4 separate regions of the Homo sapiens genome follow, and regions 1, 2 and 4 are each linked to region 3. Evidence: fine-mapped expression QTL. A gene starts in region 3. Each other region holds a variant in brackets. All regions are shown on one strand. Distances are from middle to middle. Region 1 holds the start of TM6SF2 (transmembrane 6 superfamily member 2). Region 2 overlaps GATAD2A (GATA zinc finger domain containing 2A). Region 3 holds the start of SUGP1 (SURP and G-patch domain containing 1). Region 4 overlaps GATAD2A (GATA zinc finger domain containing 2A).

Region 1 (8,132 bases), 43 kb before region 3:
CGCGGACCGCGCATCCTCCCTCCAGCCCACCTCCAGTCCTCCCCGCCCCCGCCCGCCCCCACTGTCCCCAAGGCCGCCCTGGCCCCTCTCCGCACGCACTGCGAGAGCGCCGAGACGTGGTTGAGCGCGTAGGACACCGGGAGGGCGCTCAGCGACAGCGCCGCGATCTTGCCGGCCAGCGGCGGGATGTCCATAGCGGCGGCTGCTGGACCCCGGCTCAGCCCCGACGCGTTCTCCAGGGCGCTCGGCTCCTCGTTGGCGGCGAGTCCGGGCCGAGGCTGCCAGGGACCCGCCCCGCACAAAGGTCGACCCCGCTGCGCCCTGGGCAGGCCGCCGTGACCGCCCTGCGTGTTCCCAGGGAGCCTCCAAGGCCCCTCCCCGGCCCTCCCCCTGGCAGCTGCCCCGCCCCTTCGCCCCTCACCATCGACACCCTCGTCTCCAATGGCCGTCCCGCTACTCAGCCTCAGTTTCCCTCACTGTCAAAGGCTGGGACACAACACCTCGGGATGCTTCTGCTCTTAGGCCAAGGGGTGCGCCCTGGAGGTCCTGGCGTGCCCCCTCTTTCCCCTGCCTCCACAACTTCGTTCTAAGGAAATTTTCTCCTGGACTCTGCGCTTCTAAACCTCTGCATTCCCCAGAGTTTCCCATCCCCACCCAAAGATCAAGTCGGCATTCCCTGTGCGCACGGATGGAGCAACCTCCAGCTCTTGGGTGCAAAATGCCTTTCAGTGGGCTTAGATTTGAGTTTTCATAAGGTGGCCACAAATGTAAACGTGTTTCCAGGCAGGTGTGAAGTTTTTTTGTTTGTTTTTTGAGAGGTCTCACTCTGTGGCCCAGACTGGAGTGCAGTGGCCCTCCTCCTTGAACTCCCAGCCTCAAGAGATCCTCCTACCTCAGCCTCCCAAGTAGTTGGGACTACAGGTATGCACCACCACGCGCAGCTAGTTATTTTTTGTAAAGACAGAGGTCTCACTTTTTTGCCCAGACTGGTTTCAAACTCCTGGGCTCAACAGATCCTCCCACATCAGCCTCCCGAGGAGCTGGGATTACAGGCGTGAGCCACTGCGAGGGGTCTTTAAGTGTGAGGCTTTGACTCCGGGGCTGTCCCTTTGCAGGCTAGTCCCGGGTTTAGGGTTCTTCATTTCGGGGAGAGGGTAGAAGGGGTCCTAGCGGGTGGGGGCTGAAGTTAGAATATCGGGATGGAGCCAGTTTGGTGAAGAGTTTGGGAACGGTGTTCCTGGCAGGGAGGAAAGTGGCTCAGGCTTGGAACTGAGCAGTGGAAAGGAGGTCGGTTCTGCTGGGGTGTGATGAGAAGCGAGACAGCTGTGAGAGGCTGTGGGAGGTTTTGAACAGCTGGGAGGGGGCCACAGTATTGGGGGGGAGAATAAGGAGACCATCTGTCTTTGTCACCCCCTCCAACCAGACTCTGGCCCATGTGGAGTACTTGTGGATGCTGCAGACAGCAAGGTGAACCATGCCCACCTGACGCCTGCCCTGCGGGACCCCAGTCTGCAGCTGGCACAAATTCTAACCACTGCCCCTACCTCAGGCCCCATTCTGCACGCAGCCCCTTAGCTTGATGCCAACTGGGTCACAGGTCTTCCTGAACTGGGCCACAAGAGGGTCTTCTGGCCGCAGGTCTGACTCAGCCTCCTTCCCCAGGTGTCCACTGCCCATGGGTGAAGTTCAGGTTCCCCTGGACTTTCCCCAACTCTAGCAGGGTCAACACCCCCCAGGCCTGCTTTCTGTCTGTAAAATGAGCCTTCTTGTAAGCGGGCCCCAGCATCCCCTCCTCCAGGCAGCCCTGCCTGCCACCCCCACCCCACCTTCTCCACACAAGGCCAGGGTGCCTGTGCCCAGCTCAGCCTAGGGGCTTGGCCTTGTCCCGTGTACAGGATGCACCTGCACACGCACACAGCACTTGGAGGCCTCGTCCCCTGGCAAGGGGTAAAGTCCATGCCCTGAGCCTGGTGAGCCTCCAGGTTGCTGAGAACTGAGAAGTGACTTGGATGGCTGAATGCCTGGGACCCAGTGCCAGGATTCCCTGAACCACTGGCTGCAGAGAACTACCCCGCTGTGCTCAGGGTCCTGGCCCACTGCCTTCTGGGCAGCCCTCATTCATGGGCACCCAGGCCAAGCCCACCAATGTTACTCTTTGCTCTGCCTCAGCCACAGCGTCAGGAAAGAACAAAGGGTGGTATATCACCCCAGCCTTGGCTCTGCCACTGCATCTGGCACCTCCCTGGTCTCAGACCCCACTGAGACACTCTGCAGACCGCCCCACCACGGCTCCCTGGTTCCTCTCAGTAGCAGCCTCAGACCTCATCCCCAGCAGCCTGGCTGACTGGAGTAGATCTTGTCCACCTGGTCCCCACACTTGGCACCTAGTGTTTGCTGAATGGCTGTGTGAACACAAGCTGGCCCAGGAGCCCGACTCCATGCCAAGCATGTGAATAGGGAGCCCCTGGTGCCTGCAGGGGCTGGGCAGCACCCACTGGGTGTGTGTGGAGGGGGTGGGGGCAGATGGAAATGCAAATTCCCAGGGCCCTGCCCAACCAGCTGACTCGGCAGCTGCAGCTTAACAAGATCCCCAGGGTGACTTAGGCACAAATGTGGGGCTCTGGCCCTGGGGCAGATGTGGGGGTCTTGGCACACACTGTGGCCTGGGCTACCCTCCTGCCTCAAAACCTCCGGCTCTGAGGCCCTTCCTTCTAGGAGCTGCCTGACATGTTGGCATGGCACATCCATGCATCCATGCGGCTGTCCCCTAACGACACAAGCCCCAGGGACTCGTGTGCCTACCACACTGGTGGGACCTGAAGGGCCACAGCCAACACCTGTGTGCTGGGCCGTGCCAGCACCACCTGCCAGGAGAGCACATGGGTGTGCCCAGAAGCCACCTGCCCCCACAGGTCTGAGGGAAGGTGGGGCCCTGCCTGGAGACCCCTCCCCAACCTCCCTCTGCAGCACAGTGCTAGGCTCGGAGGTTCCTGACATTCCTTTAGCCCAGGTGTGGCCAAGTCTCCAGCTTTATTATTATTATTATTATTTGAGACAGAGTCTTGCTCTCTTGCCCAGGCTGGAGTGCAAAGGCGCAATCTTGGCTCACTGCAACCGCTTCCCAGGTTCAAGCCATTCTCCTGCCTCTGCCTCCCGAGTAGCTGAGACGACAGGTGTGCACCACCATGCCCAGCTAATTTTATATTTTTAGTAGAGACAGGATTTCACCATGTTGGCCAGGCTGGTCTTAAACTCCTGACCTCCAGTGATCCGCCCGCCTTGGCCTCTCAAAGTGCTGGGATGACAGGGGTGAGACACTGCACCTGGCCTTCCAGCTTTACTATGCTGAAAACAACTTTCTTCCTCCCCTCCAGTGCAACCCAGGCTGAGCGGGGATGGAGACTCCACAGGCCAATAAGGAGAGCCCCGAGACAGCATCTTGCATCCCGCTGCTAACAGGAGGGGCTTCCTGCAACAGGACCAGGCATCTGTGGTGGATGAGCACTGGGAC[T/G]TTATTACACGGCACGGCACTCGTGACAACGGAAGGGGTGGGCAGAAATGCAGGCCGGAACATTCCACAGTCCAGGGACGGTTGGTCATTCAGAAAGTATGTATTTCCAGAACACTCAGTAGTAAGGCCGTCTGGGATTGTTCTGTGGAAGGCAAAACAGATAACAGGAGGAGGGGATTAGCACTAAAGACAGCAGTTCCTCCTGTCTGGAACCTTCCGGAGGCAGCTGAGCCCGCACCCTTGAGGTGGCAGGGCAGGCTTGGGGGACGGGTGGGGGCTTGAATGCAGGTGGGTGGTAGGGGGCTCGCTGGTGAGACCCAGCCTGGCTGGACTGAGGAAGGAAGGGAGCCTTCTGTTCCTACCACCACCCTCTCCTGTCGACTGAGCAAAGGCAGCCCAGGAGGACATGCGTACCAGGGGGTTGGGCCGGAAGCGGTAGGCCAGCATCATCCTCTTGCGGAACGCCTCATACTCGTCGTCCTCCTTGGAGAGCTCCGCCGGCCGGTCAATGCCGAAGCCAGCGCCGTCCACTGTGGTGGTGCCCCTACAGGGAGAAGAGGATGTGAGCAGGGACCTGGGGCCAGAACTCTGGCCGGGGGGCCGGGCACAGCTGGGCTCTCAACAGCACCTCCCGCGGGTGCAGGGCTGGGCTGGGACATATCTGCACAGAGAGAAGCTTGAACCTGAATGGTCAAGGAGGGGAGACCCCCGGGGCGGGCGGGGGGGGGGGGCCTAGGCCCCAGGGTCCCACACAGGAAGGAGGAGCCCACAGTGCAAGTTGTCGCAGCTCTTGGGATGGCAGGATGGTTACTCAAGGACAGCCTTGAAGGGGGCACTCGGGGCCAGGGTCACACCTGGGAGAGCTCCTGCCCATCTCTGGGAGTGGTTTCGCACTCATGGGGAATTCAAATAAGGCCCTTCACAAGGCAGACAAGGCCTGACCCATCTGTACCCTCACCCACCCCATCTGGCCTGGAGATACTCATGAGGGGACGGAAGGAGGCCCTGGGACTGGGGAGGACCCAGCCCGTATGGCCTCCTGCACTGCAGGCCTGTGCCTGACAAGGGGTGTGCAGTGGGGTGCTGTGATCATTTTGCCACAAGGGAAAAGCGATGACATAAAGGGGTGGGAATGGGGAGGCGGCAGGGGACCCACAGACCCCAAGTTCATGGCCATGCCCTCCCACAAGGCCACACTCACTTGTTCACTGGGTTCTTGATGCCCTGGCCCTCTGAGCCCAGCCCCTCGCCCTCCTTCCAGCCCATCTTCATCAGCATCTGGTAGCCGATGTTCTCCACAGTCAGCTTGAACTCCTTGTACTCTGAGTAGTCAGGCTCACGGCCCTCCTGCAAGGTGAGGAGGTAGCTGTCACCCACCAGGGCTGGGGCTGTGGTGGCCCCCAAATCCAACCTTCTGCCTTTGGTTTCAATCAGTGCTGGGACCAGTGGCCCATCTGCCTCCCTCTCACCAGATCAGACTCCTTGAGAACAAACAGACCAAGCTCCTCCTGCTTCTCAGGGTCCCCGGGGCCTTAGTGCCAAACTGTGCACCCCTGGTGGCCAAGTCAAAAGGGCAAGAGGATGAGTTACACAGGCCTTATCCACCTGAGATAAAGCAATGGTTCACTGGCAAAGAGAAGCCCCGTGTTCATGTCCTGAGAGCAATTTGTTGTACAAGGTACTAATAAGAGATGGACAACGAGGTTACCACCTCACTAATGAGGTTATCAGGCCCTGAACAGTTTTATAAAAAAACCTCAAAAAGATAATGGGGGACGTGCCATGTCAGCCCTCTCTCCTCAGGAGCCCAACAGCAGCAGAGGCAGAATGTTAAACTCTGGTTCTGGAGAGGCCAGTCCGTGGGGACTTCTGCCGGAGAAACACTTTGCCTGTAAACTGCACTTAATTGGCTCCACTGGAAGCAAAATTTCCCCCGCAGCCCCAGGAAATGTTTCTGAGGCAGCAGCTGAGCTGCTGTTTGCTAATTCCCTACACAGACGGCGCCTGTCATTAACAGATGCCTCCTGCAGCGAAAAGGCCTGGCTCCTGCTGTGATCGAGAGGGTAGCCAGGCTACTTTGGGCACCTGCAGGGTGAGGCAGCTACAGGAGGGGCTGGCATGTGGCAGAGGCTGGAGCTAGGGCCCCTCCTGGCTCACCTTCAGGGCCTTGAAGGTCTCCATAAACTTTTCCAGCTCGTCTGGAGGCAGGAAGTCTCCGATGAAGTGCTTGCCCCGGCCCATCTTTGTCAGCTGCTCGGCCCATTCTGCTCAGAGAAGCAGAAAGGTGAGAAGAGGGAGAAGCAGGAAGGAGGGGAGCAGGCCTGGTGGCTCCCAGGGCACAGGTATGAGGCTCAGTGGGAGCCTGGGGCCCCCAGGGAAGGAGGCGGCTAGGCCATGACCCCAGCCCGAGCCTCTGCCTGGTGAGGCAGCCCAGCATTTAGTGAACCCTGTGCAGCTCTCCACCCTCACGATGTCAGGACTGCTCCTTTTCACCACGGAGAAAACTAGGCCCCAGAGAGACTGAGCCTCTCACTCCAGGCCTCACAGCCACAGGAAGCAGGCTGGGGGCTAAACCAGGATGGCAGCTCAAGACCACGTGTGGCGCATCCAGGTAACCTTCCAGGGCAGGTGAGGGGGGCCATGCCCAGCCCAGCCCGGCCCACCCCGCTGCCCCACATACCCCTGGTCTTATCCATCTCCATGCGCCGCAGCTGGTGCTCCCAGGTGCCCAGCTCGCTGTCCACCTCCTCATCACTGTCATAGCCGTGCTGGTGCTGTTGGACTGCCTTCTCCCACAGCAGCTGCATGTCCTGCATGGCCCGCTTGTGCTGCATGATCATGTCGTACATCTGCTGCATCTGCAGGGCACACTCGCCAGTGAGCCAGGGCACGGTGCTGTGGCCTGCCGGAGCCCCGCTCCTGCTCCCCGCCTCCAGTGCTGGGCATCCCCCGCCGGAACGTGGCTCATCTGGACCCCTGGGCAGGACTGGAGCAAGGACTCTAGCAAGTACTGAGTACTGCCCTGGGTTCTCTAAATCCCAGTGTGGAGCACGGAGGACCTCTTGGCCACTGAATGAGGGTGACTCAGGGTCCTGACCCCTGGGAGGGTCAAGGGTGATGTGACGGGGCTGCGGGCCTGGAGGAGGGGTCACAGCGAGCTGACCCCAGGGACTGACAGGCAAGCGCCTGCAGCTCCTCAGGGGAGCCAACACCGACACTGCCCAACTACAACTGGGAGGCCTCAAGTCCCTCAGGGTGCCCTGTGCTGACCAGGATGGTCCTGCACTAGACACGACAGAGGACTGCGGACAAAGAACATCAACGTAGACTCTCCCATGGGAACCAGCCCTGGAGCGCGGCGAGAAGCAGCCACAAAGCTCAGGCCAGGATCACAGACCACCGGGGCCGCCCCAAGGGCCAGTGGTCTCCCAGGCAGGCTGAGAGGCCACTCAGGTGCAGTGGGGGGTGGCATGCCACCTACTGGGGCAGGGGGACCTGCCTGCCTGGAAGCCTCCCCGCTGGCCATGGGTTCCACCTGAACACAGGAGCTTGGCGAAGCACATGAACCCCTGTGACCGCTGCACCCGGGGGTAGAGGACAACACTCTATGGGCGCCGACCATGTCCCCGTCCCCTTGTCCCCGCAGTCTTACCTCCTGCTGCTCCTTCAGCTGCTTCTTCTGGGCGTCTGAAAGCTCTGTGACGCCCACTAGACCCACAGGCTTCCCCTTCTCATAGCCGAGCCCCTTGAGGTCCTGAACTGGAAACCAAAGACACAGGGTAGTCAGAGCCTGACAGGTGCACCCCGATCTCGCTCCTGCGCTGGGGTGTGCTGTGAGTCTCACACCTTCATGACACTCCAGGCACACGGGGACCTCATATCATTACTGTCAGTGCCACGTGGTACGTGACGGCCTCGGGGTCCCGCTGTGTGCTGCCACGTGCACCCCCGCATCTTACGTCCTTGTGACCTCTCCAGCCAGGCTCTACGCACCACCACATTGCAGATGTGGACACCAAGAATCAGAGGTTCCGGGACTCACTCAGGGTCACACAGCTAACGAGTGACAGGGCAGGAATTTGCAGAGCCAGAGACAAGAGAGCTGAGACGGCATGTGGGCAGCATGCATGGGCGCACGCACAAACGGGCTCTCAGAAGGCAGCTCCGTTGCTAACAGACACCAGGTGTAAGCGCGCACAGATTCAGAGTCTGGCGTAAGACTCAGCTGTGCGACTCCCTTAGCTCCTTCAGGGGAGGCAGCCAACCATCCTCAGAGCAGCTGACATTTAATTTGGCATCAGCTGTGGAACTTGGCAGGCTCCAGTAACACTGACACATAGAAAGATGCTGCAACAGCCCCATCCGGGTGGCAGAAACCACCACCCCTCGGGCGGTGCGGTGCTTCCCGGGGGAGAAGGTGAGCAAAGGGGTGCAGCGGGCCCTCTGGGAAGGGAAAAGATTTGGGTCCTTCCAGCTCATCAACACTCGGGCTTTGCCGCTAAGAATGGCCCACATTTGCACTCTTAGTCCTTCCTTGGTTTACAGGGCACTGAGGGATGTGGGGGAGCCCTGTTGGGGAGACGCAGGAGCCGAAGTCTGAGCATCTGGTTGATTGCCTTAG
Region 2 (8,132 bases), 93 kb after region 3:
CCTCCCAAAGTGCTGGGATTACAGGCGTGAGCCACCACGCCTGGCGGATGCATTGTTATTTCCACTCAGATGACATCATTTTTTAAAATGTCAAGTCATCTCTATTAATGCAGTATCATTTGGCAAATCCTATAATCTTATATTTTGATAGTGAGGGAAAAATATAATGCTACTTTCGGTAGGAAAAAATCCTGGAAGGATTTGTACCAGAATGTCAATAAAGGTCTCTACATTAGGATTAGCAATAGTTTTTCTTTTTTAGAAAACTTTTTAGTGTCTCTGTATTTTGCGTGTGTGTGTATGTTTTTAATGAGGAAACATGTTTTAAATACTCTAATTTTCAACTCTTCAGTAGCTCCTCTGACTTGTTTTGCATCATTTATTTTCTGAATTTCTGGCATTGCAGGTAGTGATTTCTAGATTGATATATTCAACAAATATCAGAGTGCATACTGTGCCTTCGACACTGCGAGGAATCCCTCCTCAGTAGAGTTTATAGTGAGATTAGTGGGCCAGGAGTCGTAATTAATCTTATAAACATGGGGAAACTTACAGGGATCAAGGAGAGAAGGACACTGTGACCTGGTGAGCCCGAAAGGACCTTTCTCCTACTGGGGTCAGAGAACAAGAAGGGGGACCCTCTTGAAGGGGATTAAGGCAAGGGCTGGTGCAGTGAGGCTCACAGCCGGGACCTCTTTGGGTCTTAGCAGATGACTAAAGGATGCCTCTGAAGAATGTGGCTGGTAAAGTTGTAAAGCCATTCTTGAAATGTTGGCTTTTTTTTTTTTTTTTTTTGGTGTTTGTTCTCTTGGAAGAAAATTAAGAATGACCAGCAGAGTTTTGGATATATGAATTCCCAACAGAGACAAAAATGTAATGGCCCTTACCACTGAATTTGTTTAAGGACCATCATTAGCATGTACTGACACCTCAAAGCCTGGGCAGCTCAGATGCTTTTCTGGAGAACTACCTGCTTGGACTCGGGGTGTTTCTGTGCCATCAAATGGAACAGGCAGGGCTATTTTCTCTAGACCTTTCCCCCCCATAATTGAGTTAATTTATGCTGGTTGTAGAAAACTAGGAAGATTATGAAATAGGTGAGTGGGTGAAGTCTTCTCGAGCAGCTGTCCTGGGGTAATAGAGCATCCCTGGGATTTCCTCCTAACCCTTGTCTGGTTGGGAAGTGTGGCAGAACCAGAAGAACAAGTTGGCAATGTCATAGTTTGAGGCATACAGAACTATGCTGCCTGCTAAGTGTGGTCGTTTGTTAGAATGGATGCTTTTGAGTTATCTGAGCTGCTTCGGGAGGTAGCTTTCCACAGTCTGGCCTCAGACTGTGGGTCTTCCAGGTTAACAGGACTTAAGTGCTAACTGTGCAAAGGTATGTCTTTGAATGGAATTAGGAAGGCAGTGTATTAAAAATAAGAAGGTTGAGATAAAAAAAGACGGATCTTGAAGTGGTTGGTGGTTGCAGCGAGGTGGAAATAGTGAGACCCGTACTGTCAGAAACAAAGGTACCACTGGGGACAGATCCCGCTCGAGCATGGGTTCCCCAGCATCCCCGCAAACAGGATCTGGGACTTTTTTGTCAAGAGAGTGTCAGACCGTTGGCTTCTTGCCCCTCCCCCACCTTGTGCTTTCCAGACTATATTTGTGACCTCTTTTTGTCTGATGGAAATGTAGGTTAGTCTTTTAGAAGACAAAGGAATTTACCCTAATAGAATACCTTTAGGTAGCCTCAGGAAGTGATTGGGAATCCACGAAACCCTCTAGGTGTGGGAGAGAGGGGCCCTCAGTGAGAATGTCACACGTTTGCACCAGTTTGCACAGTTGCCAGGGCCCCTTGCAGCTCCTCTGTACGCTGTACCCCCTTTGTCTCTCCTCAGCCTCCAGAGGCACCTTCACAGGTGAGTTTGTCAGGGAACTTGCCTTTCTGTCTGATTCCTGATTTTAGGGTTCCTTATATGGAAGGGCTGAAGACCTGCAATTTCCGAGGATGCTGGAGGCTAGCTTCTGAGATAGGATTTGCTGGCAGGAGATGAGCAGTACTCTAAAGGAGGGCTCCCAGCAAGTCAAAGTGGGAGTTCTTGGGGCAGGGGGTGGGGGATGGGGGTGGTGGGTGGAGTGGTCAAGGCTTCAGGGCTTTCCTGCTGCTTGGCCTCAAAGATAGTAGCTATGCCTGTGGGGAGGGGTGTGGCCATGTGGTACAGGATTGGGGAGAAATTCCACTTGTTTGAAGGATTTGTTGAAGAATCCCTCAGCTATTCCTCCTGCAGTTCCGTCTCAGGACCTGGCGCTGCGTGGCCTGCCTTGCCGGTTAGATATTCTGGTTTGAACCTTGAAACGTAGCCTAAATAAGGTGGTGCCTTCGAGCACACACTTTAAAAATACTGCTGCATTATGGTGGCACAGCAGCTCCTCCTGTGCCAAGGAGGCCACTTTGAGTCTAGGGGGCACCTGCTTTTTGCCAAGTGTGGCCGTGTGCCTATTGCTGAGCAGCCTGTCTCTAGTGGCATCCAGGACAGCCCTGGCTTTGCCTCAAGACAGCCTGGTGTGAGCTCTGCCCAGCCACTTCCTAGCGAAAGACCTTGTTGAACATCACCCCTGTTTCCCATTTCTGTCAAGGGGGTACTTACTATCTCCCGTGGAAGGCTGTGTTGGGAGTGAGATAACAAGTGCAAATGATCGACCCCAGTGCCTGTGTGTTCCACATGTTGCAGTTCAGTGAGTACTGTTATGACTGTAACAGATGAGCCAGAGTTCACAAGCATTAACAACTGCCCCACCTCTTCTGTGGGGGATGACACCACCCTCATGGCAAACTGTCACTGTCTGCATGCCCCCTTTGGAGCCACACTGGGGCGCATGCCTCAGCTTTGTGCCCCAGCCTATTCCCCTCTCTCCATGTTCCTGTGAAGAAGGCAAAGTTCCCCACAGGAGGTGATACTTGCCATAGTCACCTTGCTCATTATTCGGCGGCTGGGACCCAACCCAGCCTTTCTGATTTCAGACGTTGTCTATTTTTTCCACTGCCTTGGGGCCTTCTTGACGATACTGAATGCCTGGGTTGGTTGTGCCCCAAGCCAGGAGGCAGCCTCTTTCCTGGCCCAGGGCTTGTGGAAGCCAGCATCCGGACTTCCATCTGTGAGATGGGAAGCTGTTTGCCGGGCAGATCTGTCATGGGAGCCTTCCTTAGAGAACTGAGAGGGGTCCCTGTCACTGAGTGGACTCTGGGTGGAGGCTGGAAGTAGGTGGTTTGATGGTACTTGCAGTGGTGTCTGGGAGCGCCAGGGTGAATCTCATCCTCCTGGACTTGCCTTTCAGACTGACAGCTCTCCAGCCAGCTTGGAGTTGGACAGATCTGGCTTTGTCACTGACGATATGCAGTTTACCACTCTTCAGCGTTGGGTGGGTCACCTGATCACCTGGCCTCAGCTTTCTCTTATGTTGGCGGAGACAGCATCTTTGACCTAACAGGATGCTGTGAGGACAAGTGGAAAGTGTCTACAGGCAGTCAGGGGTATTCCAGCCTTTGCCTCTCCATTTACCTCAGAGCCAAAAAGCTTTCTCCCCCCAGATGTCAACTACACAGTGATTCTTGAACACCTCATATCTCAGTTATCACATATAATGTAACACTCAGATTGAGGAGCTTGGTTTTCTTTATAACAGAATCCTACTGCAAGCTAACAATTTGGAGGCCTAAGAGTCAGGTCAAGGCCGGGCGCGGCAGCTCACGTCTGTAATCCTAGCACTTTGGGAGCCTAAGGCAGGCTGATTGTTTGAGCCCAGTAGTTCGAGACCCGCCTGGGCAATGTAGCAATCCCCCATCTCTCTCTCTCTCTCTCTCTTTTTTTTTTGGTGGGCTGTCTCAGGCCGCTTTTTTTTCTCTCTCTTTTTTTTTAATTTTTAATTTTTTTTT[T/A]AATTTTTTTGTTGAGACGGAGTCTTGCTCTGTCAGCCAGGCTGGAGTGCAGTGACGCGATCTCAGCTCACTGCAAGCTCCGCCTCCGGGGTTCATGCCATTCTCCTGCCTCAGCCTCCCAAGTAGCTGGGACTACAGGTGCCCGCCACCACACCCGGCTAATTTTTTGTATATTTAGTAGAGACGGGGTTTCACCATGTTGGCCAGGATGGTCTTGATTTCTTGACCTTGTGATCCACCTGCCTCGGCCTCCCAAAGTGCTGGCATTACAGGCGTGAGCCACCGTGCCCGGCCGATTCCCCATCTCTTAAAAAAAAAAAAATTAGCCAGGTGTGGTGGCATGCATCTGTAGGCCCTGCTACTTGCGAGGCTGAGATGGGAGGATCGGTTGAGCCTGGGAGGTTGAAGCTGCAGTGAGAGGAGATCATGCCATTGCACTCCAGCCTGGGCGACAGAGTGAGACTCTGTCTGCGGGGGGGATAAAAAAGGTCTGATCAGATTATCTGGAAGGGATGTGAAAAACCCTGTGGCCCTAACTCTACAAATAATACCAACTTAACATTTTCTCCAGTCACAGCCATTCTGTGCAATTAACCTTTGAGTCAGTGGCTGTGAATCTATACTCAACACATTCTTACCTTAGAGACGGCTGCTTGCCCTGACCTCGGAGGTGGGCAGGTTTTAGGCCAGTAAAGTAGGCCTCCAATTTACGATGGATTGACTTAAAATTTTTCAACTTTATGTTGGGTTTATCAGAGGTAACCCCATTGTAAGTCGAGGAGCTCCCTTTGATTTGTAACAGTTTCTCCTGAACACAGATCCCTTTCGTACCATGGTAAAGTTGAGAAATTTTAAGTCGAATAATTGTAAAATGGGACCAGTGGCTGTGTTAAATGCATTTGATATTTTCTACTCCCAGTGGGGCTGCATTCTAATAAACCCATCATAAGTTGAGGAGCATCTGTCTTCTTGTTGCTGGGGTTTCAAGTTGGTGGAATTTGGTGGTAGTGACAGCAGATTTTTAGTTCTCTTGTGTGTTTAGCACAGGCTCACTCTGCCAGCAAGTTTTGAAAACTGCTGCTACCACCTTCGTTCACATCCGCAGAGGAACATTTTTCCTTGTTGCTCAAGTGTGGCTGGAGAAAGTAGGAGAGTGGTGAACTGAATTCTTGGTTTGAAGGCATCGATTGAATTGGTTCCGTCACTCTCGAGACCTGTGCTGTTCTCAGGACTTGCGTATCATTGACGGAACACCTGAACTTCATTTTCTGTCTTCTCATGTAGTGTCCCTGGGTTTGCCGAGGGTTCATGCCCACCCCGTTCAGTGGTGGTTCTTTCAGAGGATTCTGTAGTCAGCTCCTTTCCTAGGGTTCTCTTATAGCCACTCTAACCCAGGGAGAGTTTGCTGGTGTGTTTGGTGTTTTTGTTTTTGTTTTTTTGAGATGGAGTCTCACTCTGTCGCTCAGGCTGGAGTGCAGTGGCGCAATCTCGGCTCACTGCTTGAACCTCCGCCTCCTGGGTTCAAGCGATTCTCCTGCCTCAGCCTCCCGAGTAGTTAGGATTACAGACACCCATAACTTTGCCTGGCTAATTTTTGTATTTTTAGTAGAGATGGGGTTTCGTCATGTTGGTCAGGCTGGTCTCGAACTCCTGACCTCAGATGATCCACCCACCTTGGCCTCCCAAAGTACTGGGATTACAGGTGTAAACCACCGTGCCTGGCTGTGTTTGATGTTTTTATTAATACGTTCGTTTGATGAACTGACCTCGGTAGTTTGTATGTGGGCCATCTGTCTCCTGCCTCCCTTCCCCAAACTTTTGGTCAAGTTTTTAGTGTTGAGTCTTTTTGTTGTTGTCTCTTTTCTGACTGTACAAGCAACATTTCCTGATGCCGAAGTCTGGGGAGGGGGTGGGAGCCTCAGATGTTGGTGGTAGGAGTTGCCTGGTCTGCTTTTGAAGTTTTCTTGGGCAAGTATATTAACATATACTGAGTATAGGTTCAAATGTAATTGCAGTCTTATTGTTAGTTTGTATCTGTCAGGTTATAGGATTAGAAATATAACTATTTTTGGGAGTTGGGTAGCAGACAAACTGAGGATTCTACCTGGGACTTTCTTCTGTGTACTGTGCTCTGCTGAACCCAACACTGGGCACAAACAGGAAACTGAGGCTCAAGCGGAGGAGGAGTGGCCTGCCCAAGGTTGACTTGCAGAAGGAATGAGGATATATCCCTGTTTTCTCCTGGAATTAGACTTTCAGATCTCTGTTGTTCTTACTGATGTCTTTGTGGCTTGGTGAATTTTGTTTTAGCTTCCTTCTTACTTTATTTATGTAGGTCCATTGGTCAGTTTCCTTCCTCAGGGCCTTGTCTTTTTTTTTTTTTTTTTTTTTTTTTGAAACAGAGTCTTGCTCCATTGTCCAGTCTGGAGGGCAGTGGTGCAATCTCGGCTCACTGCAACCTCTGCATCACGGTTCAAGCGATTCTTGTGCCTCATCCTCCCAAGTAGCTGGGATTACAGGCGCACGCCACCACGCCCAGCTCTTTTTTTTTTTTTGTAGAGATGGGGTTTTACCATGTTGGCCAAGCTGGTCTTGAACTCCTGGCCTCAAGTGATTTGCCCACCTTGGCCTCCCAAAGTGCTAGGATTACAGGTGTGAGCCACCACACCCTGCCCCCTTTTTTTTTTTTTTTTTTTTTTTGAGTCCTGAGGTCATTTTGGGTGTCTGTAGGGTGAGGATGGGGCAGGACATGGGGAGGGAGAACTTAGGGCTGCCTCTGGTTTCTCAGGGCAGCCTTAAAAAAAAACTATAGTGGCCAAGTGTAGTGGCTCAGGTAACCTTAGCTCTTTGGGAGGCTGAGGTGGGAGGATTGCTTGAGGCTAGGAGTTTGAGATTGGCCTGGACAACATAGTGAGACCTGCCCCCGCCCCCCTCCCCCCAAAAAAACCCCAAAAAACTGTAGTAGTGTTGAGTAGGTGATGTCTTTACTTTTTTTTTTTTTATGTTTTTTAGACGGAGTTTTGCTCTTGTTGCCCAGGCTAGAGTGCAATGGCATGATCTCAGCTCACTGCAACCTCCGCCTCCTGGGTTCAAACAATTCACCTGCCTCAGCTTCCCGAGTAGCTGGGATTACAGGCATGTGTCACCATACCCAGCTAATTTTGTATTTTTAGTAGAGACAGGGTTTCTTCTCCATGTTGGTCAGGCTGGTCTTGAACTCGCGACTTCAGGTGATCTGCCCGCTTTGGCCTCCCAAAGCCCTGGGATTACAGACGTGAGCCACCACGCCCAGCCTTTTTTTTTTTTGGAGATGGAGTCTCACTCTGTTGCCCAGGCTGGAATGCAGTGGCACAATCTTGGCTCACTGTAACCTCCGCTTCCCAGATTCAAGCGATTCTCCTGCCCCAGCCTCCCAAGTAGCTGCGATTACAGGCGTGCGCCACCATGCCGGGCTAATATTTTTTTTTTTTTTTTTTTTGAGACAGTCTCACTTTGTCACCAGGCTGGAGGGCAGTGGCATGTTCTTGGCTCACTGCAACTTCTGCTTCCTCGGTTCAAGCAATTCTCCTGCCTCAGCCTCCCAAGTAGCTGGGACTACAGGCACATGCCACCACGCCTAGCTAATTTTTGTATTTTTGGTAGAGACAGGGTATCACCATGTTGGCCAGGATGGTCTTGATCCCTTGACCTCGTGATCCACCCACCTTGGCCTCCCCCAAAGTTGGAATTGCAGGCATGAGCCACCACGCCCGGCCGACTTTACATTTTAAGAGCATAAAACTACTTTTCCCTGTATGGTTTTTTTTCCCCCCCAAGAGACATGGTTTTGCTCTGTCACCCAGGCTAGAGTGCAGAGGCTCATGATCACAATCACTATAGCCTCGACCTCCTGGACTTAAGCCATCCTCCCACCTTAGTCTCCTAAAGCACTGGGATTACAGGTCCCCATCTATTATAAGATGTAATTGCACTTAATTTGTAGACATCCTTCAAGTGATATGTGGGTGACCATTTAAAGATACAAAAAAGGAGCACATGGAAATGGGAGGAGCCAACTAAATATCAGGTCCTGCACTGGGCTCCAGTGGTTGACTGTGTTAGTCCCGGGCAAGAGCGAGGGCCTTAACACTGCCAAGGATGCTGGATGAGACCTGGTTAAGGAAATTGAACATGTTTTGTTCAGATGAGAGATGATTTGGGGTGGGGGTGG
Region 3 (8,132 bases):
GACAGCCCCTTTGGTACAGCAGCTCAGGCTGGCCCTCCACATATGGGCTCTCTCCCCTTCCTGCCCTCTGCTGGGCAGGCCTTTCTCTGCTTCCTCAGTGGGCCAGCTCCACCTGGGCTTTCAGGATGCAAAGCTCTGTGGCCTTACTGTGGCCACGGGGCCTGGGAACACACTGCCTTTGTTATCTTCCAGGAGCTCTGGGGCGGCACCTGCATCCCTTTGCCAGTAGTTTGTCACCCCATAAGGGCAGAGGTTTTTTTTTGTTTTTTTTTTGAGACAGAGTCTCACTCTATGGCCCAGGGTAGTGTACAGTGGCACGATCTCAACTCACTGCAACCTTTGCCTGCCAGATCCCAGAGATTCTCGTGCCTCAGCCTCCTGAGCAGCTGGGACTACAGGCACGTGCCACAATGCCCAGCTAATTTTTTGTATTTTTTAGTAGAGATGGGGTTTCACTATGTTGGCAAAGCTGGTCTCAAACTCCTGGCCTCTAGTGATCCTCTGTCTCAGCCTCCCAAAGGGCTGAGATTACAGGTGTGAGGCAGCACACCTGAACTCAAGGCAGAGATTTTTACTCTGTTATACCCCTTCCCTCTGCACCACAGCTGGCTGGCAGTAAATAACTGCTGAGTGGATGAGTTGGCAGGCTGTCCTCTGGGCTTCCACATACCCCTCATTTCTCTCTTGCCACAGTGAGCCTCCCAAGGGCATCTGGGTCATTCCTTGGATCATCAGGCTATGGCTGGGTGCAAGCACATGCTGACTGCCCTCACAAGCCAAACCCTGTGCTGGTGACCCTCAAAGACTCACATCCAGGCCCCATCCAGGCCCCAGCAGGCACTTACTCGCCAGGATGTGGGGGCTGAGGGCTGGCCACCTGATTCTGCTTGGCTTTCTGTTCCATTTTGGCTTCAATTTCCCGTTTCTTCTGAGCGATGAGCTCTTCCTGGTGAAGGATGTTCATGTTCATTTTTCCAGATTTAGGGGGAGCAACCCCAAACCACCGGTTAGCCTTTCCTGGGGAGGGAAAAGGAGTACGTCGGAAATCACCCTTACTCCACAAACACCCCAAGAAGCTGTGACAGGCCAGAGAGCAACTGATGTTCAGATTAATTTATATGTCTATTAGTTCATTTATTCAGCAAACACTTACAGAGTGCCTGCTGCATACCATACCCTGTACTTACTACGTGCTATGCAAGAGAACACAGGTCTCTGCCCACGTGGGACTCGCTTCAGGCTGGGAAGACAATAGACCCATAATAAAAAAGTAACTTTCGGGCTGGTGCAGAGGCTCATGCCTGCAATCCCAGCACTTTGGGAGGCAGGGGCAGGCGGATCACTTGAGGTCAGGAGATCGAGACCAGCCTGGCCAACGTGGTGAAACCCTGTCTCTACTAAAAATACAAAAATTAGCTGGGTATGGTGGCATGTGCCTGTAATCCCAGCTACTAGGGAGGCCGAGGCAGGAAAATTGCTTGAACCAGGGAGGTGAAGGTTGCAGTGAGCCGAGATGGTGCCACTGCACTCCAGCCTGGCAACAGAGCAAGACTCTGTCTCAAAAAAAAAAAAAAAAGTAAGTGCACAATGTGGTAAGAGCTCTGCTGAAAACCAAAAAAGGGTGAAAAAGTAACAGGAGAGTACATATGCAGGTAGGACAGGCAGAAAATAAACACTAGAAGAGGAGACATTTAAACCAGAAAAAACAAATAAGAAGCCAGCGTCATGAAAAGCCAAATGGGAGATGATCTGGGCAGAAGAAGGAGCAGATGTGAAAGCTCAAGGCAGGAAGAAGCCTGGTACATCCAAGGAGCAGCAAGTGCCCAGTGTCAGAGGGGCCTGCTCCAGGGACAGGCAGAGGTGAGGCATGTCAGAGCATCTGTGCTTTATTATAAGGGCTTTGGGGAGTGATGGAGAAGCACTAAGATGAAGAATGCAAGATCCATTGGGTCTTTTTTTGAGACAGGGTCTGGCTCTGTTTCTCAGGCTGGAGTGCAGTGGTGTGATCTCAGCTCACTGCAGCCTCCGCCTCCCCGGCTCAAGCAATCCTCCCACCTCAGCCTCCCAAATAGCTTGGATTACAGGCATGCACCACCTCACTTGGCTAATTTTTAAATTTTTTCATAGAGATGAGGTCTTGCTATAGTGCCCAGGCTGGTCTCAAACATTCTTTCCACCTTGGCCTCCCAAAGTGCTGGGATTTACAGGCATGAGGCACCGTGCCCCAGTGGCTTTTTTTTTTTTTTTTTTTTGAGGCGAACTGTTACTCTGTCAGCCAAGATGGAATGCAGTGGCACCACCTCGGCTCATTGCAACCTCCACCTCCCAGGTTCAAGCGATTCTCCTGCCTCAGCCTCCTGAGTAGCTGGGATTACAGGCGTGAGCCACCACACCTGGCTAATTTTTATATTTTTAGTACAGTTAGGATTTCGCCATGTTGTCCAGGCTGGTCTCGAACTCCCGTCCTCAAGGGAACCTCCAATTTACGCCTCTCAAAGCGCTGGAATTACAGGCGTGAGCCACCGAACCCAGCCTTCTTTTTTTTTTTTTTTTTTTTTGAGATGAAGTATTGCTCTTTTCCCCCAGGCTGGAGTGCAATGGCGCGATCTTGGCTCACTGCAATCTCCACCTCCAGAGTTCCAGCGATTCTCCTGCCTCAGCCTCCCGAGTATCTGGGACTACAGGCATCTGCCGCCATGCCTGGCTAATTTTTTCATATTTTTAGTAGAGATGGGGCTTCACCATGTTGGCCAGGCTGGTCTCGAATTCCTGACCTCAAGTGATCCACCCACCTCAGCCTCCCAAAGTGCTGGGATTACAGGCGTGAGCCACCACACCCAGCCGTTTTTTTTGTTTTGTTTTGTTTTTTTGAGACAGGGTCTCGCTGAGTTGCCCAGGCAGGAGTGCAGTTGCATGATCGTAGCTCACTGCATCCTCAAACTCCTGGGCTCTAGAGATTCTCCCACCTCAGCCACCCGAGTGGCTAGGACTACAGGCACACTCTACCAGGCCTAGCTATTTTCTTTTATTTTTTGTAGAGACAGGTTCTTGCTATGTTCCCCAGGCTAATCTTGAACTCCTGTCCTCAAGGGAGCCTCCCATTTAAGCCTCCCAAAATGCTGAGATTTTAGGCATGGATCACCACACCTAGCCAATATCCACAGGGTCGTTTTATTTTCATCCTGGCTACTAGGTAATCATTCTGGCCAGAGAATCCACAGGCAACAAGACCAGGGAGGCTCACTGGCTCCAAGCAACAGACAATGATGTCTTCAGACTAGGGTGATAGTATGGAGACAGGGAAGACACCTCAGAGGTTCCCCATGGGACTCAGAATAAAATCCAAATTTTAAAAGTCTGAGCCGGGCATGGTGACTCACACCTGTAATCCCAGCACCTGGGAGGCTGAAGCAGGCAGATCACTTGAGGTCAGGAGATCGAGACCAGCCTGGCCAACATGGTGATACCCCGTCTCTACTAAAAATACACAAAAACACTGGCCAGGTGCGGTGGCCGGCGCCTGTAATCCCAGCTACTCAGGAGGCTGAGGCAGAAGAATGGCTTGAACCCGGGAGGTAGAGGTTGCAGTCAGCCGACATCGTGCCACTGCACTCCAGCCTGGGCGACAGAGCGAAACTCCGCTTCAACAAAAAGAAAAAAAGAATTCTAAAAGGCCATTTTCAAGGCCCCGCCAGATGGTTCCCCTCCCTTCTGCTTCATCCTTGACATTCTTCAAAAGGACAAGCCCATCCTACCAGGGCCTCTGCATTTACTGGCCCCCCTCTGTGTGGAAGGCTCCACCCTCCAGGGATTCCCATAGCTGGCATTCATTGTCTTAACTCAAATGTCCTCTGCTTGAAAAGGCCTTTCCCTGGGCCAGGTGTGGTGGCTCACACCTTTACGTAACCCCAGCACTTTAAGAGGCTGAGATGGGAGGATCGCTTGAGCCTAGGAATTCCAGACCTGCATGGGAAACGTGGCAACACAAAAAACACACAAATTCGCTGTGTGGTGGCGCGCATCTGTGGTCTCAGCTACTAGGGAGGCTGAGGTGGGAGGATCACCTGAACCCAGGGAGCCACAGTGAGCCACTGCACTACAGCCTGGGCGACAAAGTGAGACCCTGTCTCAAAAAAAAAAAAAAAAAAAAAAAGAAAGAAAGAAAGAAAAGGTCTTTCCTGACTACCCAATATCAGAAGCCTCCACTCTGATCATATCATACGTAACCTCACATCATACGTAAGTTTTTGTAAATATTTTCTCATTAATGCACTGACACCCCAGTAGAAAGCAACCTCCAGGAAGGCAGGGCCCTGTTTCGGTCACCGCTGCATGCGTAGCGCCCAGCACACTGCTTGGCACACAGTGAGCACGCCCTAAGTATCTGCTGATGGGTAAATGCATTCTATTCTGGGGAAGCAGAAAGGCCAAGGCTTGCAGCAAAGTGAGGGTCAAAAGACGCGGGAAAGTGTGTCAAGGGAGCCTCAAAGCACTTCGGAAAAGCAGCTTTTCCAGAAAGCGGGACACAGGCCAGAGGCCAGCTGCGACGAAAAGAGGGGTGCAGGGACAGCCCAAGGTTGTCGCCGTATTGGGGAACGGAGGTTGGAGCAGCCCTGAAGGCGGTTGTTTCGGAAACGGGACGCAGGGCCGAGCCGGGTGGCGGCCTCTACGGAGATCCGTGCGTCCTCAGCAAACCAAGCGGGGGCGGCCAGCAACCTGGGTCTGGGGTCTCGAGAAACCAAGAGGTGCAGAAGCCGACGCTGTGGGCTGCCCCGGGGCTGAAGCGAGGGATCCACGGGTCGCAGCAGGACGGACCCGAGGAGTCAGGGGAGACACCTAGCCCCAGGGACCCAGGCGGCCGCCTGAGAGGAGGCGGGGGCTGTTACCTGCAACATCCCGGTTGTCCATCTTGAGACTCATCCAATCCCACAATGCTCCGGCGCCCCTTAAGGGGCCCTGTTATAGTGTGCATCGCCTGATGGGAGATGTAGTCCGCCTCGGTCAGACTCGCCCTATTACTGCGTGAACGACTGGGTTTTTTTTTTTTTAACCTCCAGAAACGGAAGCCTCAGCCTATCAGCGATGCCTAAGTCCCAGTCACGATAACCAAACGGCGTCGCCCTTTTACACCTTCCCGGAGCGGCAGTCATCCCAAATACAAACTACATGTTCCAGGATGCTTTGGGCGGCAGATCTCGCGGAAGCCGCGAGGAGAGCCCGGCCCCGTCTCGCGCGCCTGCTTCCGCCTCCCTGTGGCGGCGGCTTGTTGTTGTGGAGGCCAAAATGGCGGCTCAGGCGGCGGCAGCGGCCCAGGCGGCGGCGGCCCAGGCTGCGCAGGCCGAGGCGGCCGACTCGTGGTACCTGGCGCTTCTGGGCTTCGCTGAGCACTTCCGCACTTCCAGCCCGCCCAAAATCCGCCTGTGCGTGCACTGCCTGCAGGCCGTGTTCCCCTTCAAGCCGCCGCAGCGCATCGAGGCCCGTACACACCTGCAGCTGGGCTCCGTTCTCTATCACCACACCAAGAACAGCGAGCAGGCGCGCAGCCACCTGGAGAAGGCGGTGAGCGCGGGCCGGGCCGCGAGGGAGGAGTCGCGGGCTCCTTGCAAGATCTGGGCTGACGGGTCGCGACCGCGGCGGGTGGGGGGCCGCTCCTCGGCGACCTGGGGGCGCGACCTCCGTCAAAGCCGCAGGACCCCCACCCGCCTCTGCCGGACCCCAAAGCCACCAGCCTCTCAAGGGACACGAAAGCCTCGCCCCCCACGCCTTATTTCCCGTTTCTGGTGACAGGGCTCCAGGAGCCCCGTCACCGTACTCTGAAAGTTGCCTGTTATTGGGAGCAACAGGATCCGCAAATCGTCTGGTTTTCAGGAGGATCCCACCTGTTGGTGGCGATGGGGACATCACAGGGTCCTGAAGCTATTAGCTCCTCCTGGTTCAGCTTCCGGAGCATCAGCCCCAAACGCTTCCACCTAAAGTGACTTGGGGTAGGGGTTGGCGAAGGCGAGACCCCTGGCATTCTCCCGGGAATCTGAAGTCTGGTCTCTCAGGAACCTGGAAGGGCATGATTCTCCTTGGACACAGAAGTTTGGTAATCGTGGTTTTTGGAGGGTCTTGTGCCCCCATCAATAATGCCTGGTGTCGTACGAGGGAAGCTGAGACCCGGAGTCTGGAGTTGGTCATTTGAGGCCTATGAGGAGGAGAAACAGGGGTTCTGGATTCCAGGCCCCGCTGTTCAGTTTCAGTATTAGGGGAACTAAAAGCAGCTCCTGCTTTTTCTCCATCCACTGGTGACTTCTACCATCCATCAGTCCATCCTCTTCCGTCAGAGTGAGTCCCTCCCCTGACCCAACTTGATTTGTGTCATCTTGGTGCCTCAAAGAATGCGGGAGAGTGGCTGTCATTCTGCCCTTTAGTAAACTTTCTTTTTTTTTTTTTTTTTGAGACGGAGTCTTGCTCTGTCACCCAGGCTGGAGTGCAGTGGTGCCATCTTGGCTCACTGCAAGTTCCGCCTCCCGGGTTCAGGCCATTCTCCTGCCTCAGCCTCCTGAGTAGCTGAGACTACAGGCGCCCGCCACCACGCCTGCCTAATTTTTTGTATTTTTTAGTAGAGATGGGGTTTCACCGTGTTAGCCAGGGTGGTCTCCATCTCCTGACCTCATGATCTGCCCACCTCGGCCTCCCACAGTGCTGGGATTACAGGCTTGAGCCACCGCGCCCGGCCCCTTTAATAAACTTTCTAGGGCCAGGCTCAGTGGCTTATGTCTGTAATCCCAGTATTTTGGGAGGCGGAGGCAGACAGATTACTAGACCCCAGGAGTTTGAGACCAGCCTGGGCAACACAGTGAGATCCCGTCTCTACAAAAAATACAAAAACTAGCTGGGCGTACTGACGCGGGCCTGTAGTCCCATCTACTCCAGAGGCTGAGGTGGGAGGATCAGCTAAGCCCCGGGAGGTCGTGGCTGCAGTGAGCAGTGATCACGCCACTTCACTCCAGCCTTGGTGACAGTGAAACCCTGTCTCAGAAAAAAAAGATAATAAGGAAAAAATAATAAAATTTCAGGCTGTGGAGTCGTTTTTTTCTCACAGCAGCGCTGTGATCCTGTCAGACCCCTGCCTCCCTTTTACCTTTTACCCAGCTCTGTCCTGCTTGAATAGAAAATTATTGAAAAGAATCAACTCAGATTTTAAAAACTCATTAATCTGAGGTAAATCCAAGCCCACCCTCAGCTAGTAACAACTTGCCTTGAGGAATAGATCAAATCTTTGTTTCACAGACTGAAAAGTTGGAAGGAGACTTTATTTTATTTTATTTTATTTATTTGTTTATTTTGAGACGGAGTTTCGCTCTTGTTGCCGGGGCTGTAGCGCAATGGCAGGATCTCAGCCCACTGCAACCTCCGTCTCCCGGGTTCAAGTGATTCTCCTGCCTCAGCCTCCCGAGTAGCTGGGACTACAGGTGTGCGCCACCACACCCAGCTAATTTTTGTATTTTTAGTAGAGACGGGTTCACAGTATTGGCCAGGCTGGTCTTGAACTCCTGACCTTGTGATCCACTCCCCTCGGCCTCCCAAAGTGCTGAGATTACAGGCATGAGCCACTGCGCCCAGCCCCAGATAATTTTTTTTCTTTTTTTTTTGAGACAGATTCTCGCTTTGTCACCAGGCTGGAGTGCAGTGGCGCGGTCTTGGCTCACTGCAACTTCCGTCTCGTGGGTTCAAGCAATTCTCTTGCCTCAGCCTCCCGAGTAGCTGGGATTACAGGCTTGCACCACATCATCTGGCTAATTTTTGTATTTTTAGTAGAGACAGAGTTTCACCATTTGGTCAGGCTGGTTTCGAACTCCTGACCTCAAGTGATCCGCCCATCTTGTCCTCCCAAAGTGCTAGGATTATAGGTGTGAGTCACCACATCTGGCCAGTTTTATTTATTTATTTATTTATTTATTTTGAGACAGGGTCTCGCTCCATCACCCCGGCTGGGGTGCACTGGCGTGATCTCAGCTCACTGCAGCCTTGACCTCCTGGGCTCAAGCAGTCCTCCCATCTCAGCCTCCTGAGTAGTTGGGACCACAGGTACGCACCACCACACCCAGCTAATTTTTGTGTTTTTTGTAAAGACAAGGGCTTGAACT
Region 4 (8,000 bases), 170 kb after region 3:
CCAGCTTTTTAATTTTTTTAGAGACAGGGTCTCACTGTGTTGCCCAGGCTGGTCTTGAACTCCAAAGCTCAGGTCATCCTCTCACCTCAGCCTCCCAAAGCGCTGGGATTGCAGGCATGAACCATCGCACCTGGCCATATTTTGTTTCTGACCATCCCCTGACTTGTCTTGTGATTTGGGTAAGTTATCATTTCTTGATAGAGTCCGAGGGCCACATCTGTGTCCTCACACTGCCTCCTCCTTCACACCTCAGGGACTTAGCTTGTGGATGCTACTGGCTGTCCAGGATCCTTCAGCCATAAATAAAGGTTCACTATTCCAAAAATGACATAGTGGGGCTCAGTGGCTCACGCCTGTTACAGCACTTTGGGAGGCTGAGGTGGAAGGATCACCTGATCCCAAGAAGTTCAAGACCAAGCCTGGGCAATACATAGTAGTTCCCATATCTACCAATAAATAACAAATTAATTCGCTGGGTGTGGTGGCTCGTGCCTGTAGTCCCAGCTACTCAGGAGGCTGAGGTGGGAGGATCGCTTGAGCCCAGGAAGTCGAGGCTGTAGTGAGCTGTGATTGTACCATTGCACTCCAGCCTGGTTTACAGAATGAGACCCTGTCTCAAAAAAAATAAAATATGACCGAGCGCGGTGGCTCATGCCTGTATCTCAGCACTTTGGGAGGCCGAGGTGGGCAGATCACTTGAGCCCAGGAGTTTGAGACCAGCCTGACCAACGTGGTGAAACCCTGTCTCTACTAAAAATACAAAAATTAGCCAGGTGTGGTAGTGGGCGCCTGTAGTCCCAGTTACTGGAGAGACTGAGGCCGGAGAATCACTTGAACCTGGGAGGCAGAGTTTGCAGTGAGCCAAGATCGCGCCACTGCACTCCATCCTGGGCAATAGAGGGAGACGCTTGTCTCCAAATAAAGATATTTGATGACCTGAATTAGCAGCTGCCAGTCACATGGGGCCTATCCTCTCTAACCCCACACCTCCTCTTTAGGGTTCCCCCAGGGTCCTGGCACAGTGAGGGGTCCACACAGGAGCTCAGGTGCTGTAGGAGCCCAGGTTGTCTGCAGGTCCTGGTGTGTGACCTTAGGAAGTCATGTGGCCCTCCCTTAAGATTGTTCCCTGTACTGGGAACTGGGGGTAATGATGGAGCTGTGGAGAGGATTATGTGGAAGGGTGAATTTTGGTGGTTGGCCTAGGAATGGCCATCATAAAGGCTCAGCAGGTGTTTACTGGGTTTTTGAAACCTGAAAAGTTAGCCTTTCATTTCTTCGATTGTAGTCATTTCTAATGCATGTGTCTTCCTGTATTTCTAAGCAGAACGTGCTGGATTTGATGTGGCCTCCCCCATGGTGTCAGCTGCTGACAAGATTGGGCTGCAGTGGCCTCTGTGGGCGGGTAGAGGCTGCTGGCCCACATGAGCATGGTACTAAGGTCTCCTAGGCTTGTCTCTACTACCCTCAGCCAAGCTATTCTGCACGCCCCCGAGACTGGCCCCTGTCACAGTGAGGTCCTCTGGGCCTCCCTGGCTGGGCCCTTTGACTTCAGGGGCTGTTGCGTTCCTAGAAGGCGTTCTGGCAGCGCCGGCTGGCCGCCCCCTGGCTGTGCTGATGCTGGGGGCGGGCACTGCATGGGGCTCCTCTGCTCTAGCTGGGGACCTGGGACTGCTCCCTTCTGTACTGGGGAAAGGAGAGCAGGCAGGGATGGGCTCAGAGGTCTGGGCCAGCCACACAGACTCTCTCTCTTTTTCCTGAGCTCTTTAGCCAGCACTGTGGCAGTGCTCACCATAATGGATTCCCAGAGCGGTCGTTGGACCTGAAGTCTCCAGGAAGAATGATGGCTGAGTTTCAAAAATCCCATCCCAGCTGCTCACCTCCACGGCCTCTGAGGCAGAGAAGCAGAATGTGTTCTGTCTTCCTGGGCCCCACAAAGCAGGCTCTGGGCTTTTCTCTCACATCCCAGCCAAGAGGAGCTCAAGTTACATGGCGGGAGAAGTGTGATGGATGCTAAGAAGGGAGTTGAGGGAACCGCAGAGGGGCTGCGGCTGGCGAGAAGCAGGTGGGCCTCAGGGCATGGGGAGCGGGGTGACTCGGGAGGACACCAGACAACCCCCAGGAGTTCTTCAGTGTTTTTTTTTTGGAGACTGAGTCTCGGTCTGTCATCCAGCATGGAGTGCAGTGGCACAATCTCGGCTCACTGCAAACTCCACCTCCCGGGTTCACGCCATTCTGCTGCCTCAGCCTCCCGAGTAGCTGGGACTACAGGTGCCCGCCACCATACCCGGCTAATTTTTTTTTTTTTTTTTTTTGTATTTTTAGTAGAGATGGGGTTTCACCATGTTAGCCAGGATGGTCTCGATCTCTTGACCTCGTGATCCGCCCGCCTCGGCCTCCCAAAGTGCTGGAATTACAGGTGTTAGCCACCACACCCGGCCTAGTTCCTCAGTTTTGGGGCACAGCCTGTGTCTAGACAACAGAGCTCTCTTTCTATCAGCTGAGTGTCTCTGAGTGAACACCACCCCTTGGGAAAGGAGGGAGGACTGCGTGGGGTCCCAGTGAGCAGCCCCCACGTCCAGGTTGCAGTGAATGCTGCCAGAATTGTATGTCAGCACACCCACTACACAGGGGCCTGACACACAAGATATTGCCCGGACTGGCCTGGGCAACACAGCGAGACCCCACCTGTACAAAAACTTTAAAAATGCAGTGAGCCATGATCGTGCCACTGTGCTCCAGCGTAGGCAACAGAGTGAGAGACCCTGTCTCAATATCAAAAATTGAAAATTGAAAAAAATTAGCCAGGTGTGGTAGTGTTTCCCTGTGGTCCCAGCAGCTTGGGAGGCTAAGATGGGAGGATCACTGGAGCCCAGGAGTTCCAGGCTACATTGAACTATGATCACACCATTGCACTCCAGCCTGACAAGAGTGAGACCCTGTCTCTAAAAAAAGAAGTTGCTCAGTGGTAGGACTAACTTGGGGAACTGATAACTGTGTCCTTTTTCTCTGTCACAGGATTTTTCTTTTTCTTTTTTTTTTTTTCTTTTTTTTTTTTTTTTTTGAGACGGAGTCTGGCTGTCGCCCAGGCTGGAGTGCGCAGTGGCACGATCTCGGCTCCCTGCAGGCTCTGCCCCCCGGGGTTCATGCCATTCTCCTGCCTCAGCCTCCCGAGTAGCTGGGACTACAGGCGCCCGCCACCTCGCCTGGCTAATTTTTTGTATTTTTAGTAGAGACGAGGTTTCACTGTGTTAGCCAGGATGGTCTCTATCTCGTGACCTCGTGATCCGCCCACCTCGGCCTCCCAAAGTGCTGGGATTACAGGCGTGAGCCACCGCGCCCAGCCTGTCATAGGATTTTTCTAGGAGTGTTTCTTGAAGGCAGGTAGAGAGACTGGATGAAGCATGAGGAATTGCTTTCTGGCTTGACTCACTTCACTCCAGGTGCTGCCTGAAGCTGGGGTGCCTCCCAGCCTGCAGACTGCCTCCTCCTTTTCCATGGGACCCTCTTCAGCCCCTTTCATTGTTGGGCAGCTCTGGTCTCCCACATGACCTTCCTAGAGCTGTTCTCATCTTGAGTCTGCACCTGTCTGGGGGGCCTCTGTGCAGGCTGCTGTTGGTCCCTCTGTCAGGGGGTGCTTTAAGGCTCAGTGGGTAGTTACTTGGGTAAACCCTTTCTTTCCCCCTTCTCTTTCCCTGCTTTGTCCCAGGGTAGCATCTGAGGGAGGAAGTGGAGTTACAGTGATATGGGTTAGCTCCCCAGGGGCCAGCCTGGGCCATTGGCTCCATTAGCTTAGTGGTTTAAAGCAGCGAGGTATTGACGTTTTTCAGTCTGTCAGTTCTGCTGGTTGGCTGGTCCCGCCCAGCTGGGCACTGTTGCTGGGGCCCTCTGGTCTTTGCAGTTGCATGTCAGCTGGGCTGGGTGTCCCCAGTGGTTTCATCACTCACATGTGATGGCCAAAACAGCTGGGACTGGCTGGACCAGTCTCTGTGCCTGTCTCCATCTCCCCCACTATAGCGGGGGCTAGTGTGGGCCTCTGATCCCGTGGTGGTTTGGGGCAGTCAGACCTCAGCTCTCCTAGAGCAAGCATTCCGAGGGCTCAGGCAGAAGCTGCAAGGCTTCTGTGACCTCACCTGAAAAGGCTGCCACGTCACTTCCTCTGCATTCTGTAGTTTGGGAATTGAGCCATAAAACCAGCCCAGGTCAAGTACTACGGGGGCTATGAGTAGATGCAGCCAGAGCCTCCGGCCTCCTCAGGACTGCAGAGATGGGCCGGGGGCCTTGCAGAGTTTGGTCTGGTGTACAGGGTTTGTCAGCCATGAGTATTAGGGCTCCTTCTTCATATCCACAAAAGCGCTTGGACTCAAAAAATAGGAATTTGGCTTCCAGGGTCTGTTGCTTTACAAAGACGCACGATGACACACAATTCAGAAATCCTTGTGAGTGAGTTTCCCTTTCCTCCAGCAGCACAACATCTATGTGCACGAGGGAAGCAGCTGCCCACCGTGCAAGGGGGTCCATCAGTCCGTGGCGCTGGTTCCTCCTGAACTCACAGCCCCAACCCTGGAACCTCCATCAAGGCAAGAGGAGGAAGTGGGCGCTCCCCAGCCTTGCCAGGCCCCCAGCAGACCCAGTCTGCCCTTGGGGGGTTTGTGAATGTTCAGGTGTCACATTTCAGGACCTGTTTACTGAGATTGTCTGCTCTGTAATGGGCTCCCACTCTTTCCTCA[G/A]AAAGCTGTCAGGTCAGGCAGATGTTTCAGGTTTGCCATTGCTTCCATCTGGGAGCTGCAAGGCGAAGGCACGGGCGGCCTGTTTGCTGCCCTTATCTTCCCAGTGTTGGGGACCCCAGGAAGTACTGTCTTCTAAGGCCCGACAATCCAAAAGAAAATCACTCCTGCATGCTCCTATCCCCTTCAAGGTTGCATCCTGTCAGAGCATCCATCTTGCCTCTGGAGGCCGTGGTGCTGCTGCCATCTGGGTTTTGGGGGCTGCTGGATGTGGGCGGCTGGCTCTGAAGAGGCAGCATGTGATCTGACAGCAGGATGCTCCCGCCCCACCAAATGACAGCCTTGGGGCAGCTCCCGGCAAACAACTCCATTTCCTTCTCCGAGGTGGGAATGGGACCTGGTGCAGGGGACGCAGGCTGTCGGGGCAAACCTCTCTCTCCATTCTAGGGGCATGCAGGGTGGCTATGAGTGCTCTCAGGAAGGTCACTGTTCCCGAGGCCTGAGCTGAGCACTTTCAGATCAGCAGGGCTGCCTGATCCCCCTGCAGCCAGCCGGCTGTCTAAGGTGCCCGAGCCTCCTCAGCACTGAAGTCTCACCTCACCAGGCAGCCCTGAGAGGCTGCGGGACAGGGATTCCTCTGCCCTGCCATGCAGGAGCCATGGAGAGGGAAGTGTCACTTGCAAGAGGCAGAATCAAGTGAGACCCAGGTGTCTTCTAGCTCACTGGGTGAGGGCTCTCTCCACAGCCTGACTTGCCGGCAGTCGTTTGAAGTCCAAGGCTGGGCAAGGGTGGCCAGTGAGCTCCAGGCCTCAGCTTGCTAAAGGAGCTACTCCACAGGAGCATGCGGGCTCAGGGCTCAGCACCCTCACATGACAGGCTCAGCCAGCCTCTCCCCCATCCCCAGCCATCATAGACTTAGGAGGAGATTCCTGGCTCTGAGGACATGGGGGCTTGCCCCCTTCTCTGGGGCTGTGGTATCACCCCAGGGCTGGATACCCCCTTGCCCTTTGTTCATCTGGTCCTGGGAACACCTTGTCCCTTGTTGGGAGCTGAGGCTGTGCCACAGAGTGGGGCCATAGGTCCCTGGGTGCTGTGCCGGTGCCACACCCACCTGAAGGAGGTCGTGATGGCCCCCAGCTCAGGGTGCAGGAACCTGCTTGTCAGACAGGTGCTGACATGTCACCCTGCAAGGCAGGGGGAGGGAGGGCTCATCTTCATAGGGGGGTGGGGTGGGGTGCCGTGCAGGGAGCCAAAGGCACTTAGATGGGCTTGCTGGGCCGAGGGTGGGTGGGCCAGTCACTGGGCTGGGGGTGGCTAAGGAACACAGACCCACCAGCCAGCCCTTCTTGGGAAGCTCTGGGGGGTTTCTGCTCAGACCTGCACTCCCCCGAGTGGAACCCCGAGTTCTGCCATGACCTTCACCCCGAGGCAAGGGGACAGGGCCGGGCAGGCTTCCTGAGGCATGTTGAAGAGGGATGTTCTGCAGGCAGAACATGGCCATGCTGGGCCATGTCTGTGGGCCAGGCCCCAGGAGGGCGGGGGATGTTAACAGCTTGGTTCATGTCAGGTAGGGCCTGGTGAGCCCAAGATGAGTGTTTGCACAAGGGACAAGTGAGCTGGCAGGGCTGGTGTTGGCTCTAGCAGAGCCCTCATCCCACCCTTGCACACAGCCAGCAGCCCACCCTGCTAGGCCTGAAAGAGGTGAGGAGGAAAGGTTCTAGTGGGAAATGGTTCTGTGGCTGGAGAAGGCATTGCTGGGCCCTGCCTGTCTCCCCAAGCCAGCCTGGAGGAGGATTTCTTGTACCGAGGCCTCACGAGCTACAGGTCATGGTCATCCCTAACTTCCCTAGTGTGTGCAAGACTTGGGGGATCTTGCTGAAATACAGACTTTGATCAAGCAGGTCTGGGGCAAGGAGGACACGCTTCATTTATACAAGTTCCGGAGAAGCTGCCCTGCTGCTATGGCGGTGACAGCGGTGGTCAGACATTCACGGGGCCAGCCCCAAGCCCACCTACAGCCTTGCCCCCACCTGCCGCTCCCCTGTTGTGTCTGTCCATCCTGGTAGACTGAACCCTAAGGACAGAAATTCCTTTTATCCAGGGGTTCCTCCCCACTGCCTGCTATAGCACCTGCTTTTTAAATGAGCTCTCAGCAGATGTAAGGAATGAATGAATGAATGAATGAGGGAGAGGGGTATGTCTTTCCTGCATACCAGGCAGGCCTGTTCAGAGAACCACAAAGGTCCCAGCCTCCAAGGACAGCTCCTTCCCGGCACTGGCTGAGGGGACACTAAATATTAACCACGTACTGGCCGCTGGTTGCTGAGCAGCTGAAAGCCATAACCTTTTGCTGTGGAAGTGGGATCGTGTCTCAATTTAAGTTTATAATCCCGGCCTCTCCTCCAGGAAATTCTATGGAAGTTCCTGGCAGGTAACAGAATTTCTGTGCTTGTGAGGTCAGGGCCAGTGCCAGCGGGTCAGGGAGTGGGGGTGGTGCGTGTCAGCGAGCGGGTGAGACCATTTACGCTGATAACAGCCTGGCCTGCTTCCAGGGATTTTTGTAGGTCACATAAAATCTCTTGATCACTACGTTTTACATTAAGGCTTCTCAAGATGGGCAGGACGGGCTTATGGGATTTGTCCTGAACTATCACATCACTTCCAAATAAACTTGGTGCCCGGGACGGCTGCTGTGGAGTGAATGGCAGACGCTGTCCCTGGGCCACGATGCCATCCCTCTCAGCATGTTGGGCTAGATTTCCACTGGTTTTGTTTACTTTAGACAGTTTTTATAATTAAATATTTCCCTGAAATAATGCCTGCAATCATTTTGAGCCACATGCTCTTTTTCCTGAATTAAAGATCTCTTTTAGAAAGTACTGAGACTCTTAAAGCCTCTCTCCTTTAAAAAGTGAGCTTAACAAAGTTTTTCATTTTAGAAACTTAGAGGGGCCAGTGACCCTGCTGTGTGCGGTGTATGTAGAGGTGACTGGAGCCTGTGGTGCAGCAACAGTCCCCTGTGGGCTGGCGCCACACAGGAAGTGCCTGCAGCTCCACAGCCCTGGGGTGAGCCTGGCGCCTCCATTTTCTGACAGTACCTGAACCTTTACCTCCCTTCTCAAAATGAAGGCTGCGTGTCACAAACCGGTTGGAACTGGCCGTTGCCATGGTTTTCACGTTGGAAGGCACAGTTAAAGGGTCATGTGACCAAGGAGGGAAATGCCTTTGTCACATGACTTTTTGGTGGCCTGATTAGCATACAGGAAGTTCACTCCC

Evidence for each region.
Region 1: its variant is fine-mapped to the expression of SUGP1 in whole blood (TOPMed, PIP 0.98).
Region 2: its variant is fine-mapped to the expression of SUGP1 in whole blood (INTERVAL, PIP above 0.99).
Region 4: its variant is fine-mapped to the expression of SUGP1 in whole blood (TOPMed, PIP above 0.99).

The regions. Positions count from the first base shown.
Region 1 is chr19:19,273,022-19,281,153 of GRCh38, forward strand. It overlaps TM6SF2 (transmembrane 6 superfamily member 2), which reads right to left and starts at 280. Exons shown (of 10, transcript NM_001001524.3): 1 at 100-280. The coding sequence starts at 194. SUGP1 (SURP and G-patch domain containing 1) reads right to left here. Exons shown (of 14, transcript NM_172231.4): 9 at 7,164-7,270; 10 at 6,192-6,369; 11 at 5,669-5,775; 12 at 4,713-4,858; 13 at 3,926-4,055; 14 at 3,012-3,653. The coding sequence ends at 3,627. The variant T/G (reference allele first, on the strand shown) is at 3,512.
Region 2 is chr19:19,408,239-19,416,370 of GRCh38, forward strand. All of the region lies in intron 1 of GATAD2A (GATA zinc finger domain containing 2A), which reads left to right. Among named protein-coding and RNA genes, the nearest start is that of GATAD2A, 6.6 kb to the left of the region's middle. RefSeq lists an enhancer at 2,557-2,666 and a silencer at 2,777-2,866. The variant T/A (reference allele first, on the strand shown) is at 3,923.
Region 3 is chr19:19,315,577-19,323,708 of GRCh38, forward strand. It overlaps SUGP1 (SURP and G-patch domain containing 1), which reads right to left and starts at 4,933. Exons shown (of 14, transcript NM_172231.4): 1 at 4,887-4,933; 2 at 846-1,017. The coding sequence starts at 4,920. It overlaps MAU2 (MAU2 sister chromatid cohesion factor), which reads left to right and starts at 5,253. Exons shown (of 19, transcript NM_015329.4): 1 at 5,253-5,559. The coding sequence starts at 5,284. RefSeq lists enhancers at 4,801-4,850, 4,871-5,360, 5,069-6,040 and a silencer at 5,412-5,633.
Region 4 is chr19:19,481,490-19,489,489 of GRCh38, forward strand. The region is part of intron 2 of GATAD2A (GATA zinc finger domain containing 2A); the gene reads left to right. Among named protein-coding and RNA genes, the nearest start is that of TSSK6, 30 kb to the right of the region's middle. RefSeq lists enhancers at 1,051-1,658, 2,765-3,549, 6,687-7,470, 7,337-8,000, 7,471-8,000 and 1 more. The variant G/A (reference allele first, on the strand shown) is at 4,728.